Homo sapiens: one gene and its partner. The protein of the gene in region 1 binds, or shares a complex with, the protein of each later gene. Each region holds a gene or a part of one and is shown in the gene's direction. Other genes may lie near its edges.

Region 1 (3,943 bases):
ATTGAACCATCTCCAAACTCAAAAGTTGAGTTTGAGTGTGCCTTGTGAAAATCCTCCACATCTCAAAAGTTGTGGAGATGGTTGAATGGTGGAGGTAGTGGTACCACATTCCTCTCAAACTGAAACTCTGTACGCATTAAACAACTTCCTATTCCCTTCTGCTTGCTTGTATGATTTTTCTCTGTGTGTTTCTCTCTTCCCAACTACTTTATGGACTCCATGAGGGCTGGGCCAGGCTGGGCATATTCACCTTGGAATAAGAAAGAACACATACAATACACACAGGGCCTGGAAGAAGTGGTTGACACAATAGTTTCATTAAATAAATGAAAAATATGTAATATTATTTAACATTTGTTTGAAGGCTGAGTGACTTCTTGGACTAATAAATTCTAAATTTAGTGCTGAGACAGTGTCTGTCACATAGCTGGATCCAAAACCTGTTGACAGAATGAATGAAGCATTAATAACTCTGTTGCCCGTAATAAAACATTGGCCCTTTATTGAGCCCTTACAAGTACCAGGCACTGTTAATACACAGAAAGAAAGATGTCTGGCACTCCATACATTTCCTTCCTTCCTTTCCTTCTCTTTCTTCCTTCCTTTCCTTCTCTTTCTTTGTTTCTTTCTTTCTTTCTTTTTCCTTCCTTCCTTCCTTCCTTCCTTCCTTCCTTCCTCCCTCCCTCCCTCCCTTTCTTCCTTTCTTTCCTTCTTTTTTTCCTTCCTTTCCTTCCTTTCTTCTTTTTTCCTTTGAGACAGGATCTCACTCTGTTGCCTAGGCTGGAGTGCAGTAGCACGATCATGGCTCACTGCAGCCTTGACCTCCTGGGCTCAAGCAATCCTCCTGCCTCAGCCTCCTGAGTAGCTGAGACTACAGGCATGTGCCACCATGCCTGGCTAATTTTTAAAATTTTTAGTAGAGATAAGATCTCACTATGTTGTCCAGGCTGGTCTTGAACTTCTGGGCTCAAGCAATCCTCCTACCTTGGTCTCCCACAGTGCTGGGATTACAGATGTGAGCCACCATGCCTGGCCTTCTTCTTTTCTTTGTAAGCATTATCGCATTTGGCCCAACTACCCTCTGAGATGACTACTTGTTTTATAAGTGAGCACAAGCTCAGTGACATCATGTCCCCTGCTGTGGTTACACAGCTGGCAGGTGTCTCCAGATGGGGCTGACTCCAAAGTTTGGTGCTTCCATATATATTTTGTGATGCCTCCCTGTGTTAATGAACCAAAACAGAATTTCTTAATATTTTTTTCTTTTTTTTTCTTTTTTTTTTTTTTTTTTTTTTTGAGACAGAGTCTCACTCTGTCACCCAGGCTGGAGTGCAGTGGCACGATCTCAGCTCACTACAACTTCTGCCTCCTGGGTTCAAGTGATTTTCCTGCCTCAGCCTTCCAAGTAGCTGGGATTACAAGTGTCTGCCACCATACCTGGCTAATTTTTGTATTTTTAGTAGAGATGGAGTTTCGCCATGTTGGCCAGGCTGGTCTCGAACTCCTGACCTCAGGTGATCCGCCTGCCTCAGCCTCCCAAATTGCTGGGATTACAGGTGTGAGCCACCGTGCCCGGCCTTTGCTTTCATTTTAATAAAACATGTTTTTCTTTTCTGATTATAAACATGTATTTACACTCTATTTTTTAAAATAAGGCATTACAGAAAGTGGAAATCTGACTTTTTAAGACTTCTTAGAATGTTCTCTCAAGATCCATGGCAACCCTTCCCGGGCATAGCAGATCTGGAACACGTGGCTCTTGTGGGCTCTTCCTTCTGGGTTGTCTCCAGGTCAAGGGATGTATGTATCCCATCGCTGACCTTTCTTTCTAGGTACCTCCCTCCCCACTAATCTTCAAAGATAACTGAGGGATGTTGTAAAGGCAATAAAGCCACCTCGACTTTCTCCCCCTAACCTGCATTTCCCATTAAGTCTTGTTTTCAACTCTACAGGTGGGGTTTTCCCCAGCCAGACCTTAGGTTATTTTCTGAGCTTTGGTTTCTTACTGGGGTTTGGGTGCAATAAGGAAGTTGACAAGTGAAACTGTTTTTTCCAGGGTAGCTGAGCTAAGCCTCTTATCATTGGAGGAGCGGGGAGCAGTCCTGGGATGGGTGGTAACAGGTGGAGGAAGGTGAGCCAGCCCATGGCTCTCTGGATTGGCTGCCATGAGCTCAGTTCCTGGGAGATACTGTATATATGGACGGCCAAAGCATCTTCTGAGACACTCAGAAAATTGCCAGCACCAAAGTAGTGGCATCTTCTCCCTGGGAGAGCTGGGTCTGACTTCTCACTGGACACAACTTCCAGCTGACAGGGAGCAGAGCCTAACACAGAGACCTCTTGTCTGAAGATCCCAGCCCAGGGTGTTCAGGACAGAAGCGATTTCTGTGGTCCAAGGTTGGTTGAACAATACCCTCTCCTTTGGGGGCGGGAGCAGTGGGTATGTATCTTGGGGTCCGGAGAAGAGTTTAGTCCTGGGTGTCAAACCAAGAGTCCAGTCCCAATGCTGCTTCCAGCATGCTGGGCCCTCCCAGAGAGGCAATGGGGGTGGAGGTGGGGGATCAGTTTTCTTATCTCTAAAAAGAGGGAGCAAGGTTCAATGACATTATCTCAACGGGGTGTTTCTCAAAGGGCTCTGGGCTCACTCGGACTTAAAACTCTGTATTCAAGTCCCAATCCTGCTTATTAGCCGCCACCCTGAGCAAGGAACTTCACTTCCTTGGGCCTCAGTTTTCTTGTCTGTAGGATGGGGCAGCATTACATAGCTCACCTGCTAGTTTCCCTCAGGATGTGGTAGAGGTCAAGTTATAGACTTTATGTGAAGGTACATGAGGGAACCCCCTGATAAATGAGAGGTGTTATTATGACCTATGGTTAAATTAAGGTTCTATGAGTTTTAAGGTTTTTGGAAGTTAGTCCAAGAATGGGGAAATCTTATTAAAATAACTCATGGTCTACTGCTCTCTTGGATGGGAATGTAGAGGCTGGGAGGTGGATTATAACCCACAGTCCTGACCGACTCCTCACACAGTGTTGCATTGCCCGTGGTCTTGGATAGAGGACAGAATGGGGTGGGGAGGGCATGGGTGTCTATACCTAGGCACACGTGATTGTGTGACTCCATGTGCATAGGTCATGGTAGGTGTGTATGTGACTGTGATTACCTCCATCAGTGTGAAATAGCAGGTTTCTCCCCTAAGTCCATGTGTAAGTGCGTGCATGTGTATCTATGCTTACATGAGGCCATTTGGTGTAGAATAGAGAATGTAGGATTTGAATCGGGAGAAGTGGGAGAGTCTCAGCTCTCTGCTTCCCGGCTATGTGACCTTGGGCGTGTCTCTTAATGGTCCGGAGCCTCAGTGCCCCACTGTTAGCCCATCTGATTCACTGCTCCTGGCAAAGATGAAATGAGATCATGTCAATGAAACGGCTCTCTGGACGCCGTGTGGCTGCATGAAGGTGAGCTGGTTTGGGTTTGCACATGCCTGTGTATCATTTGTTTGTTTCACAAACACTGAGAGCCTCCCAGGCTCAGGTCCCCTCTCATGGAATTTAGAGTTAGGACCGATGGCAAGCGGTGAGCTTGGTCACATAATTATTCCCTTACACTTGGGACAGGAGAAATACAGGGCGTCTTGAGTCCATGTTGGTCTGTGGTGTGCACAAGTGTGTTCTGGTGACACGTGGATGTCTGTGGTGTTGACTGTGGGTCCACGTGTGTGTGCCACACACTCTGTCCCTCAGGGTGCTGCTGTGGGTGTGCAGCAGGTTGGCTCTCTGTGAAGTTTCTATTGTGTGAATCATGGGGTGGAGAAGGGGAGCCGCGAAGTTATCTCCATGAAAGGCACCAGAGCAGTTAGAGAGTAACGCGGCCAGGTGAACAAATTAGAGAACAGCATAGAGATGAGGTCACCGTGCAACTTAGAAAGTAAACAACACACAG
Region 2 (3,600 bases), 2.8 Mb from region 1:
TTTTTTTTTTTTTGAGACGGAGTCTCATTCTGTCACCCAGGCTGGAGTGCAGTGGCGTGATCTCGGCTCACTGCAAGCTCTGCCTCCTGAGTTCACGCCATTCTCCTGCCTCAGCCTCCCATGTAGCTGGGACTACAGGCGCCTGCCACCATGCCCGGCTAATTTTTTTGTATTTTTAGTAGAGACGGGGTTTCACCATGTTAGCCAGGATGGTCTCAATCTCCTGACCTCAGGTGATCCACCTGCCTTGGCCTCCCTTTTGTGTATTTTTAAAAGAGACGGGGTTTCGCCATGTTAGGCAAGCTGGTCTTGAACTCCTGACCTCAGGTGATCTGCCTGCCTCGGGCTCCCAAAGTGCTGGGATGGGATTACAGGCGTGAGCCACCGTGCCCGGCCTTTTTTTTTTTTTTTTTTTTTTTTCTAGAGACAGACTCTCCCTCTGTTGCCCTGGTGCAATCATAGCTTACTGCAGCCTCGACCTCCTGGGCTCAAGCAATCCTCCCACCTCAGCCTCCCCAGTAGCTAAGACCACAGGCATACAACACCATGCCTTGCTAATTTTTTTTTTTTTTTTTTTTTTTTTTGGTATAAGCAGGGTATTGCTGTTGCCCAGGCTGGCCTGGAACTCCTGCACCTGGCCTCAAGCGATCCTCTTGCCTTGGCCTCCCAAATGGCTGGGATGGGATTCTAGGCGTGACACACCGCAGCTGGCTGCCTTTTTTGTTGTTGTTGAGACAAGGTCTTGCTCTGTTGCCCAGGGCGGAATGCAGTGGTGCAAACATGGCTCACTGTGGCCTCGACTTCCTGTGCTCAGGTGATCCTCCTGCCTCAGCCTCCTAGGTAGCTGGGACCACCAAATGCACAGGTGTGCACTACCATACCCAGCTAATTTCTAATTTTTTTTTGTAGAGACATGGTCTCACTTTGTTGCCCAGGCTGGTCTTGAACTCCTGGGCTCAAGCAATCCTCCCACCTCAGCCTTCCAAAGTGTTGGGATTACAGGCGTGAGCCACTGGGCCCAGCCTCTATTGAGTTTTAATCTCCGTTTACTTGACTATCACCTTCAGGATTTCAAACATCCAGAGACCACCAAGGTGCATGGTGCACAGGTCTAAATTGCAGGTTGAATCTCAATCTAGTATTAGTATTCCCCAATGCGACTACAGAACTGATTATTACTATTTATTTTTTTTGAGATGGAGTCTTGCACTGTCACCAGGGCTGGAGTGCAATGGCGCAATCCTGGTTTACTGCAACCTCCACCTCCCAGGTTCAAGGGATTCTCCTGCCTCAGCCTTCCAACTAGCTGGGATTACAGGCGCCCGCCACCACACCCAGCTAATTTTTTGTATTTTTAGTAGAGACGGGGTTTCACCATGTTAGCCAGAATGGTCTCGATCTCTTGACCTCGTGATCTGCCTGCCTCAGCCTCCCAAGGTGCTGGGATTATAGGCGTGAGCCACCGCGCCTGGCCCAGAACTGATGATTAACCCAGCTGAGCCTCTGTTCATCTGAATGGGTATTGTCAACAGCACTCACTTACAAGAGTTGCTGAGAAGATCCAATGAGACAAATAGTTGCTAAAGTGCCAGGCATGCAGCAGTGCTTAAGAAACTTCTCACCCTGGGTTTTTTATTGGTATTGATTGATGTAGAGGTGGGGGAGAAGATCAAAGACAAGGATTGAGAATCAGGGATGGGAAAAGCAGTGGGCCACTGACAGCCGCCCTGCCTGCCTGGGAGGTGGGGTGGGGAAAGTGGGCGGGACATGCTCCTGGGCCTGGCCCACCCAGATCACCCTACAGGCTGTCGGCCTGTGCGTCTGCATCCGGTGGCCACAGAGCAACTTCCTCTAGAGGGAGCTGATTGGAGCCGGGTGCCGCTGGCACCTCTATGATCACTGGAGTCTCGCGGGTCCCTCGGGCTGCACAGGGACAAGTAAAGGCTACATCCAGATGCCGGGAATGCACTGACGCCCATTCCTGGAAACTGGGCTCCCACTCAGCCCCTGGGAGCAGCAGCCGCCAGCCCCTCGGGACCTCCATCTCCACCCTGCTGAGCCACCCGGGTTGGGCCAGGATCCCGGCAGGTAAGCTGGAAGGGTCTTGTCCATCCTCCCAGATCTCAGCAGCCCCAGCCCCAGGGTGGGGCAGGGAGCCTGCCGGGAGCCGGGTGGGGAAGGGGAAGCTCAAGGCTTCCCTGGGCAGGTCTGCCGCCCCGGCTGGGGACCTGATCCTGCCATGCCTGCCTCTGGCTGCCCCTCACAGCTTCCCCTCTTGGCCCAGCCCTGGATGCCGGAGAACTGTAAGAACTGGGTCCTTTAACAGTCTGGGAGATGGGAGTGGAGGTCAGAGCCAAGGTCAAGGGCAGAGAGAGAACTTTCTCAGCGCTTGCTGCTGCCCAACATCCCTAGACTGGGTCCAGGGCCTGGCCAGGCATGTATCCCTGGGCAACATTCATCGGGGCCCAGCAAGCCCAGGAAGTCGGGGGTGGCTCCCCTCACCGGGAATTTAGGCCACTTGGATGGGGGAGGCAGAGCTAGGCCTGAGTCAGCATAGGTTGCTGGCCTTGGTGGGTGTTCTGAGGCTCTACCTGCTCCCCTCGGAAGCCTGGGGTGTTGGTAGAGGGAGTTGGAGGTGCAGTCAGCATCCTCCAGCCCTACTGTCCTGGGGGTGCCGGGTCCTGGAGACTGGGGAAGAAGGAAGGCCATCTTATGTAAGGAGCTACGGGGGGTGGGAGGCAAGCAAAACTCTTTTTTTTTGTTTTTTGAAATGGAGTCTCGCTCTGTTGCCCAGGCTGGAGTGCAGTGGCGCAATCTCGGCTGACCGCAACCTCCGCCTCCAAGGTTCAAGCGATTCTCCTGCCTCAGCCTCCCGAGTAGCTGGGACTACAGGCGCACGCCACCATGCCCAGCTAATTTTTGTATTTTTAGTAGAGATGGGGTTTCATTATGTTGGCCAAGCTGGTCTTGAACTTCTGACCTCGTGGGCCACTATGCCCGGCTGCAAAGTTCTGTTTTAACAAGGCCTTGCCCCTAGAGGTGGAGGAGAGGAAGGTCTGCCTTCACCCTGTCCCTGTCCGGCAGATCGAGGAGGAGTGGGGAGCTGGGTGAGGGCACAGGTGGTCCAGCCCTCCTCCACCCCTTCTTGAGAGCTCTTGGGGCACTTTCGAAAACACTCCCAGGCCTAGCGGAAGGAGGGTGGGCGAAGGTCCCCAGGCCCTGGGCGGTGGGGGTGGGGCTGTGTGCTTGGCCCAGGGTGGGGCTGCACACCCCCTCCCTCTGGGATAGGAGGAGGGCGCTCTCCTTCTGAGGGCTGGAGGCTGCCTGGGGAAATGGGGCTCTGGGAGGGGTGCAAACTGAAAGTGAAACAGCTGACATCCAGGAAACACTCGCCCTGATGAGGGGTCACAGCAGGTTGGGGCTGCGGTCAGGACCAGGCAAAGAGGAAAATTGGGGCCGGGGACAGAAGACCAGGTGTGTGGTGGGAGTACGAGGCAGGTTATGGGGCTTCAAAGAAGGCCCTGATCCTGAGGGCTCCCTCCGGTCACTGCAAGGCAGCAGTGGGGAAGGCACAGACAGGAGGTAAATAGGGAAAGTTGC

Evidence for each region. Proteins that work in one complex are often made in the same cells at the same time.
Region 2: the proteins of BNIP5 (region 1) and BAK1 are in contact, whole or in part, in a crystal structure (PDB 8IGC), measured with the Homo sapiens proteins. Residues at the interface, in NP_001010903.3 of Homo sapiens: Ile246, Ile247, Gln248, Met249, Ile250, Val251, Leu253, Leu254, Lys255, Arg256, Val257, Gly258, Asp259, Gln260, Trp261, Glu262, Glu264, Gln265, Ser266; in NP_001179.1 of Homo sapiens: Leu78, Ile81, Gly82, Ile85, Tyr89, Glu92, Phe93, Met96, His99, Leu100, Tyr110, Lys113, Ile114, Ser117, Leu118, Ser121, Asn124, Trp125, Gly126, Arg127, Val129, Ala130, Phe134, Ala180, Leu183.

What each region holds. Positions count from the first base shown.
Region 1 is NC_000006.12:36,335,166-36,339,108, reverse strand, and holds the start of BNIP5 (protein BNIP5), read left to right. Parts: upstream 1-2,220; 5' UTR 2,221-2,397; intron 2,398-2,433; exon of another isoform or gene 2,434-3,459; intron 3,460-3,943.
Region 2 is NC_000006.12:33,578,513-33,582,112, reverse strand, and holds the start of BAK1 (bcl-2 homologous antagonist/killer), read left to right. Parts: upstream 1-1,836; 5' UTR 1,837-2,088; intron 2,089-3,600. UniProt on the Homo sapiens protein: Plays a role in the mitochondrial apoptotic process. Upon arrival of cell death signals, promotes mitochondrial outer membrane (MOM) permeabilization by oligomerizing to form pores within the MOM.